Regions from separate parts of the Homo sapiens genome. Here all the other regions are linked to region 3. The links come from fine-mapping of genetic effects on gene expression. A gene starts in region 3. Each other region holds a variant in brackets. All regions are shown on one strand. Distances are from middle to middle. Region 1 overlaps RNF130 (ring finger protein 130). Region 2 overlaps TBC1D9B (TBC1 domain family member 9B). Region 3 holds the start of TBC1D9B (TBC1 domain family member 9B).

What was found. PIP is the estimated chance that this variant, and not a neighbour inherited with it, causes the effect.
Region 1: its variant is fine-mapped to the expression of TBC1D9B in whole blood (INTERVAL, PIP above 0.99).
Region 2: its variant is fine-mapped to the expression of TBC1D9B in ovary (GTEx, PIP 0.99).

The regions. Positions count from the first base shown.
Region 1 is chr5:180,053,330-180,055,829 of GRCh38, reverse strand. The region is part of intron 1 of RNF130 (ring finger protein 130); the gene reads left to right. Among named protein-coding and RNA genes, the nearest start is that of RNF130, 17 kb to the left of the region's middle. The variant A/T (reference allele first, on the strand shown) is at 1,062.
Region 2 is chr5:179,883,000-179,885,845 of GRCh38, reverse strand. All of the region lies in intron 7 of TBC1D9B (TBC1 domain family member 9B), which reads left to right. Among named protein-coding and RNA genes, the nearest start is that of TBC1D9B, 23 kb to the left of the region's middle. The variant C/T (reference allele first, on the strand shown) is at 1,135.
Region 3 is chr5:179,906,284-179,909,129 of GRCh38, reverse strand. It overlaps TBC1D9B (TBC1 domain family member 9B), which reads left to right and starts at 1,233. Exons shown (of 21, transcript NM_015043.4): 1 at 1,233-1,426. The coding sequence starts at 1,309. RefSeq lists silencers at 1,082-1,241, 1,312-1,371, 1,382-1,521, 1,572-1,621 and an enhancer at 1,502-2,279.

The sequences.
Region 1 (2,500 bases), 150 kb before region 3:
TTACAGCCATGAGCCACGCACCAGTTGTAATGGTGATGGTTGTTTTTTAACCCTTTATAGTAGCTAAAAAGAGAGAAGTATCAGCTCTACCAGTTTATTTTTGCTGGGGTTTTTAAAAAAAGGCATTTGTCCATTTGATGAGGGACAATTTAGTAAAAAGTGGATCATTTCGTCTGTAAATCCTGTAACTGAGTAGTGTATGGCTATTATACTGTTGGCAGTATTATCTGAAAACAAACGGATGAATGAGAGAGTCACTACCATCCCTGTTGCATTTCAGAAATCCCTCTCTTTATTTAGGACAACTGGTATACCACATGAGACAGACAGACACACAGACACATACGCGTGCGCGCGCGCACACACACACACACACGCACACACACACAAAGTCATCTGACATTCAGGTTGAGGAAAGCAGCCAGTGTTAATCCTTAATTAAATGCCAGTAAAACTTAACTTACTTCTAGCTGGGCATGGTGGCTCAGAGTGACTCCTTCTCAAAGAAAAAAAAAATTGCATTTTTTGTTTGTTTGCTGTTTTTTTTTGTTTTTTTTTTTTTTTTTTTTTTTTTTTTTTTTGAGACAGAACCTCACTCTGTTGCCCAGGCTGGAGTATAGTGGCTCGATCTCAGGGCCTGGCTAATTTTTGTATTTTTAGTAGAGATGGGTTTTCACCATGTTGGCCTCAAATTCCTGGCCTCATGAGATCTGCCCGCCTTGGCCACCCAAAGTGCTGGGATTACAGGTGTGAGCCACCACTCCTGGCCAAAATTTATTTCTTGTTACCAATAACCAGCAGAGTAATTTTTTAAAAACTCAAATACATTTAGGAACACCCATAGATAAAAGATCAATAAAACAAAAATTAAGTCAGTTGTAGTTCTATATGCCAGTAACAAACAATTAGAAAATAAAAATTTCACAATATCATTTAAAGTAATATTGGCACTGAAAACTGCAAAGCACTGTTGCAAGGAATTAAAGATGTAAATAAACAGACTTTTCATGTTCATAGGTCCAAAGACTTGTTTTGTTAAGGTACCTGTGCCCTCCAAATTG[A/T]CCTACACATTCAGACCATCCTGTGAAAATACCAGAACTTCATATGGAAGTAAAAGGGACTCACAGTAGTCAAAACAATCTTGAAAACAAATAATAAAATTAAGAGAATTCACATTTCTCAATTTGAAAACTTACTACAAGACAGTGTGGTACTGATAGAGACATGGTAGATCAGTGGAGTAGAACTGAGAACCAGAAAGAAACCCTTTTGTCACTTGATTTTTGAGAAGGGTGCCCAGACAATTCAATAGAGGGAAAGAATAGTCTTTTCAGTAAAGGGTGCGGGGACAACTGGATATCGGAGAAGTTAGAGGGAGAGGGAGGATGCGAAAGGAATGTGCATTGTCTCAAAAGCTAAGTGGGCATCTGCATCTGACCCTGGCCTGGAGGGTGACATGCCACGGGGTGGAAGGAATTCTTTGCATTTGGTGATATAATGCAAAGTGCCTAGAAATTGGGAAGAAAGCGATTGTATCATTTTTTAAGTTTGCAAATCCTAGGACAAAGAAAGCTGGGTCGTTACAAATCATCTCAAGAAACAATATGAGTGATTAATTGAAGAAACCAGCATGAATGCATAAGATATAAACAGCTGTTCTACTGAAATGAAGTAAAAATAGGTAACAGAGAAACCTATTCTAAGAATGTATTTGCTGGCCGGGCGCAGGGGCTCACACCTGTAATCCAGCACTTTGGGAGGCCGAGGCGGGCAGATCACGAGGTCAAGAGATGGAGCCCATCCTGGCCAACATAGTGAAACCCCATCTCTGCTAAAAATATAAAAATTAGCTGGGTGTAGTAGTCCCAGCTACTCGGGAGGCTAAAGCAGGAGAATCGCTTGAACCTGGGAGGCAGAGGTTGCAGTGAGCCGAGATCGTGCCACTGTACTCCAGCCTGGGCGACAGAGTGAGACTCTGTCTCAAATTAAAAAAAAAAAAAAAAAGAATGTATTTGCTTTTTTACAGTCTCTGCACTCATTGTCAGTGTCATGTAGCCGTGCTTGTTGCAGTTCTCAGGTTATTCTCTGTGGTAGAGAAAGCAAAAGCAAAAAAGTCTTGAGAAATGTTTCCATCCATCATTTAGTTGGCCCTGGGCAGTAAACCTATTTCTTTCCAACTCTTCTTGCTCTGAATATACTTAAAAAAATAATAAAACTTTTGTGAGAAGTAGCTTTGCTTGTTCCTATCATTACTGGCAACCTTCAACTTTCTGGGCTTTTTAAAGAAAAGCTGTGTAAGCCTGTACCATCATCTTGTGTTTGCCTTTTCAGGTTTTGTTTGAGTCCTCCTTAAAGCTTAATTTGTCTTGTGTGTTCTTGCTGCTTTCTTCATAAAATGTGTCATTTTCTTTCTCATCAAGATGATTTGTTACTGAGCTTTGTTTGCCCAGGATTTTGTAAACTCTGAAATGATACGTTGCTTTCTTCCATGTGACTTGTC
Region 2 (2,846 bases), 23 kb after region 3:
GAAGCCAGTGAAGAGTCATGACCAGAGGAGGGCACGACCTGTTTACGTGTTAATGGGGTTACTGTGGCCGTCCATGTTGACAGTGGATTAGAGGTGCCCCGTCTAGTACAGCAGCCACGTGTGGCCATGGAGCACTGGAAATCCAGCGGGTGCCAATGGAAATGTGCTGTGAGTGTTCAGATCACTGTACACGGGTTTTGGAGACTTCGTATGAAAAGAAAAACGTAAAATACCTCCATCTTTTTTTTTTTGGGGGGGGGACAGAGTCTTGCTCTGTCACCTAGGCTGGAGTGCAGTGGGGCAGTCTTGGCTCACTGCATCCTCTGCCTCCCAGGTTCAAGTGATTCTCCTGCCTCAGCCTCCCGAGTAGCTGGGATTACAGGCGTCCACCACCACGCCCGGCTTATTTTGTATTTTTAGTAGAGACGGGTTTTTGCCATGTTGGCCAGTCTGGTCTTGAACTCCTGACCTCAGGCGATCCACCTGCCTCAGCCTCCCAAAGTGCTGGGATTACAGGGGTGAGCCACCGTGCCTGGCCACTCCATCATTTTTTAATTGATTCCTGTTGAAATGCGAGTATTTTGGATATATTGGATTAAGTCAAATATATTGTTAAAATTAATCTCAATAATTTACTTTAGGACTTTACAATGTGGCTACTAGAAAATTTACAATTACATTTGTGGCTCTCATCATCTCTCTTGGGCAGTGCTGGACTAGAGAGTGGCAAGAATAGAAGCAAGGAGGCCGGCTGGAGCCCATCACAGAAGCAGGGGCACAAGATGATGGAGTCGAGCATCAAGGGTAGGAACAGTGTAGGTGTAAGAAGGGGTCAGATTCAGGAGACGCTATTGTGATAAAATACACATAACAACATTTACCATTAAGTACATTGACATTGCTATGCCATCACCACCATCCATCCACAGAACTTTTTCAGTTTTGCAAAACTGAAACTCTGAACCCATTAAACAGTAACTCCTCAGCCCCCACTCCCCCAGCCCCTGGCAAGCACCATTCTACCTTTTTGACTTGAATTGAACTATTCTAGGTAATGCACATAAGTGGAAGCATATAGTATTTTCCCTTTTGTGCCTGGCTTATTTCATTCAGCGTGATGTCCTCCAGGTTCAT[C/T]CCTGTTGTAGCGTGCTCAAGATTTCTTTTTTAAGGCTGAATCATATGCCATTGTATGGATAAGCCACGTTTTGTTCACTGTTGAAACTTGGACTGCTTCCACCTCATGGCTATTATGAGTAACACTGCTGTGAACATGGGTGTACAGATGTCTGTTTGAATCTTTACTTTCAGTTCTTTTGGGGACATACCCTGGAGTGGAATTGCTGGATTGTATAGCAGTTCTATTTTTAATATTTCAAGGAACCTCCGTGCTATGCTCTATCCACCAACTGTGCACCACAGTTGGAGGCCAGACCACCAACTGTGGCATGACTCTGTGCAGACACAGAGCCAGTAGCTGTGCTGAGGCAATGGCGGGAAGGAAGAGGGGCTCTGATAGTCCTAAGAGCCAAGGAATCCAGAAGTCACCAGAATACCCCTCACAAGAGACTACTCAGCAAATGGAAACCTCAACAAGTGAATCTGAGAGACAGCCAGTGAAATTGGGAGCCGATTTCTCAGGCTCCAGTTTATAGAGGAGGCTTTTTTTTATTAATGGAAGCACAAAATCCTGCTTTATTTCTACCCACAGCCTTATCGCTGCCTGACGTATTATACGGCTGAGGAAAGATCAAGAATGTGAGGGAAACCCATGCCCTTAACAAAAACTTCTCTTCTGAAAGACAAGAGCTCACCCCAAGAAAAAAAGGACTGGGATTGAACAGAGCAGGAACACTTGGGGTAAAGGAGAAAAGCTTTAGATACAAGAAAGAGGTGGCCAATCCCAGAAAGTACAGGAGCAAGGACTACACAGACCGACCACAGCAGGGGAAAGGCCTCTCCAGCTGTGGAGTTCAGAAAGCTACTCTGACCCACAACTGCCCGTACGTAGAACATCCTGCTGAAAGAACAGGAAAAGATGCTGATCACACCCTGTACAAAGATATTGCGGGGAGAAAGTGAACCAGATAACCTCCCACAGATAATGAAAGCACACCAGAAAAACATTCCTCCAGGCAGATGAAAACTGTGTCCTGATGTTTCTGAGTGATCTCAAAGGAATTAGAAAAACGACAGAAACTACTAAAGAATGGTATAAATTAAAAATGTTTAAAAAGCTCAGGTTAAAAGTGACTAGTCAACAGAAAAATATGAAGAGAGTTGACAGGACTCAGGAGGAAATAAGAAAAAAAAAACCAGATATTTCTGAAATGAAAATCAGGAACACAAGAATGAAAATACATTAAGGTAAATAAGGAAGAGATAGGAGAAAAATGGAGTCAGAGGAGACTCAAACAAATAGAGAAGAAGTTGTCCAGAGAAGGGATAAAGAAGTTAGGCAAAGAAGATCAAACTTACGTATAATCGTAGTGCCATCCCACACCCTTCCCAGAAAAAAGCAGTGGAATAACAGATAATAGAAACTGTGATTCAGGAAAACTGATAAAATAAGCTTGAACTTGTATAGTGGAAGGACACATTGAATGTCTAGAAAAATCAACACAAAATAGTCGATATTGACATAAAATCTCATAAAACTGTTCAATTTTAAAGATTAAAAAATTATTCCAGGCTGGGCACAGTGGCTCACACCTGTAATCCCAGCACTTTGGGAGGCTGAAGCAGGCAGATCACTTGAGGCCAGAAGTTCAAAACCAGCCTGGCCAACATGGTGAAACTCTGTCTCTACTAAAAATACAAAACTAAGCTAGGTATAGTGGCACATGCCT
Region 3 (2,846 bases):
CCAGCAACATTGAAGAAGACTGCAGATCACTCTGGGTGTCAACTGCATGTACCTACATCCATCGCACCAAGATTCTTGAGTGCCAATCACAGAAACCCACCTGGAAGTCAGGTCCAGCTCCAAGGATGGTTTAACTGCCCCCTTCCCTTTGCCCTCTAGCCAGACCCTGGTGAGGGTTCCAGCCAGCAGGGTGACCCCACATCCCAGTCGACCCCGGACAGGCCCCAGGCCCGTTGTCCCAGGTGGAGTTGACAGCCCCCTCATGCAGAAGGCTGTGTGTGGACTGGCGCTGCCCCTGCAGGCCAACACTGGGAGACCAGGGACCCGCATTCGCCTGCAGCCAGCCTCACACTTGCGCAGAAGCCGCCACTGGGCCCAGGGCCAGTCCAGACCCCATCCCCAGGGCCGGCCAGCCTCTGTGACCCGTCTGTCAGGGGAGGGGCAGCACTGATTTCCAAGGATGCAGCCCGTATCAGGGCCTCCTGGCACCTGCCCTGCGCTGGAAGATTCTTCTAGTCTCCCGGCCCCAGTGTCAGAATTCTGAGAACTGGCCGGGCGCGATGGTTCACTCCTGTAATCCCAGGACTTGGGAGGCCAATGTAGGCGGATCACCCGAGGTCAGGAGTTCGAGACCAGCCTGGCCAACATGGTGAAACCCCGTCTCTACTAAAAATACAAAAAAATTAGCCGGGCGTGTTGGCGGGAGCCTGTAATCCCAGCTAAAGAGGCTGGGGCAGGAGAATCACTTGAACCCGGGAGGCAGAGGTTGCAGTGAGCTGAGATTGCGCCACTGCACTCCAGCCTGGGCGACACAGCAAGACTCTGTCGAAAAAAAAAAAAGAAAAGAAAGCTGAGAATTAGGAGGAACTGCAAACCCTTTCCAGGCGCCCTTTGCAGTGCTAACACGCCCCGGGTTGCACGCGCAACCAGCCAAAAGCCGCCAAACTCTGCTTCTTGACATCCTTCTCTCACACTGCACAGCTTTCAAAACGCCAGAAGCCCTGCTCTGCACAGCGGCTCCCCTGTCTGCGGACTGGGCCGTTCCGTTCTGGACCCAGGCCGGAGGCCGTGGGCTGCACCGCTCCAGGAGGCCAGGCTGGCGCGCGCCCGAGGCCGGGGCTGAGGGGGCGGCGCGGAACTCGGGCCGCGTGCGGGAGCGCCACACGCCCGCCAGGGGGCGCCGCCCGCCCGGCCCCGCCCCGCCCCGGCCCGCTCCGCACGCTCCGCTCCGCACGCTCCGCTCCGGGACGCCGACGGCGGCGGGCGCTTCCGTCTCGCGGGCCTCGGCCCGGTGCGAGCGGCTCCGCGATGTGGCTGAGCCCGGAGGAGGTGCTGGTGGCCAATGCGCTGTGGGTGACGGAGCGGGCCAACCCCTTCTTCGTGCTGCAGCGACGCCGGGGCCACGGCAGGGGCGGCGGCCTTACGGGTGAGAGGCGCGCGGGCGGCCGGGCCTGTGGGCGCCGCGGCTGGGCTGGCGGCGGGGCTGGCGGCGGGCGGCGGGCGGGTCCGGTTCCGGCCCGGCCTCGGCGCGTCGCGGCGGACACGCACGCCAGCGCGCGGCGGGGCGGGGGCGCGAGGCCAGGACCCGGGAGCCGGGCGCGGAGGGGCCGGGGCGGGGAGGCGAGGGGCTGGCGGGAGGCGAATGCGCCCTCGGCGGGCTCTCCTCAGGTCGGCTTGGGGCGGCCAAGTGGAGACCGGCGGCGGCTTCTGCCCGGATTCGGCGCCCGCGAGCCCCGGGGGCCGTGCAGCTTCCCGGGATCTCACCGCCGAAAGTTGGCGAGACCGCCCTGTCCTCATCCTCCACCTCAGTTTCCCCAGGTGCCTCTAAGGGGCCAGGTGACGCCAGCGCACGTTTTCTTTTGCCCTCTTCTTCGTGCCCATCTCACCAAAGTATCGCCCTTTTAGCAAGATCAGAGGTCCCTGGAGCTGGCCGCACCCCCATTCCCCCAGCTTCTCCTCCCCCACCTTTCCTGCTCCTGGCTGCTCTCAGAGCTGCGCACCCAAGGCTGTGGGTAGCGGCACAGGGTGTTCCTGCAAGCTCGCCAAGGTGGCCCTTTGTGGGCCCGGGTGCCACCATCACACAGGATGAAGCTGGACAGGCACCCTTGGAGTCGTGCGGCCTGTGGGATCCAGGGGAGGCCCACAGGCCACTCCCTCCGCAGGTGGTGTCCGGGGCCCCTCATGCTCCAGGGCCTGCGCCCAGCACTGCAGGAGCCCGGCTGGCTCGGGCTCAGTGCCTGTGCTCTTCGGGGCACCGACTGTTGCCCTACAGGATTGCGGTCCCAGTGTTGCCAGGTCGTCCAGTTTATCAAGAGCATTTTCTGTGAATCATCCTGATTTTCAGTGTGAGCAGCTAATAGCCAGATGCAGACGGAGGCTTCTCCTGGGCCACGTTTCTTCATGTGGAAGAGACTGTTCTGTTCCCAGAAACACTCAGTGTTCCCTTCAGCTTCGGGTTCCCTCCCAGTGGGCTTCAAGGATCTCGGGCTCCTGTTCTGGACCCGCCTCCTAGATCCAGCTGTTCAGTCGGCAGCCCCTGTGGCTAACCTCGAAGCTACTGCAAGCCCGATGAAGAAAGCGAGGGACCGGCACCTTTTCTTCCGCCAGCGCGCCAGGGTGTCATCAGCGCGCCAGTGTGTCATATTCGCTGGTGTACTTGAAACACTTGTGCTGTGCTCGGCAGGCTTATGTGGGTCGTCTCATTGAACGGGCGGGTGCAGGTGCAGCCCGGTCTCTGTACACCTCCTTCCTGCGGGCTCTTCTCCTTTCCACCTCACTCTCCGTGTCCCCTGGGACCGAGCTCCCAGGGTCCCCCCAAGGGAACCCTTCTTTGAACCCTCTCCCAA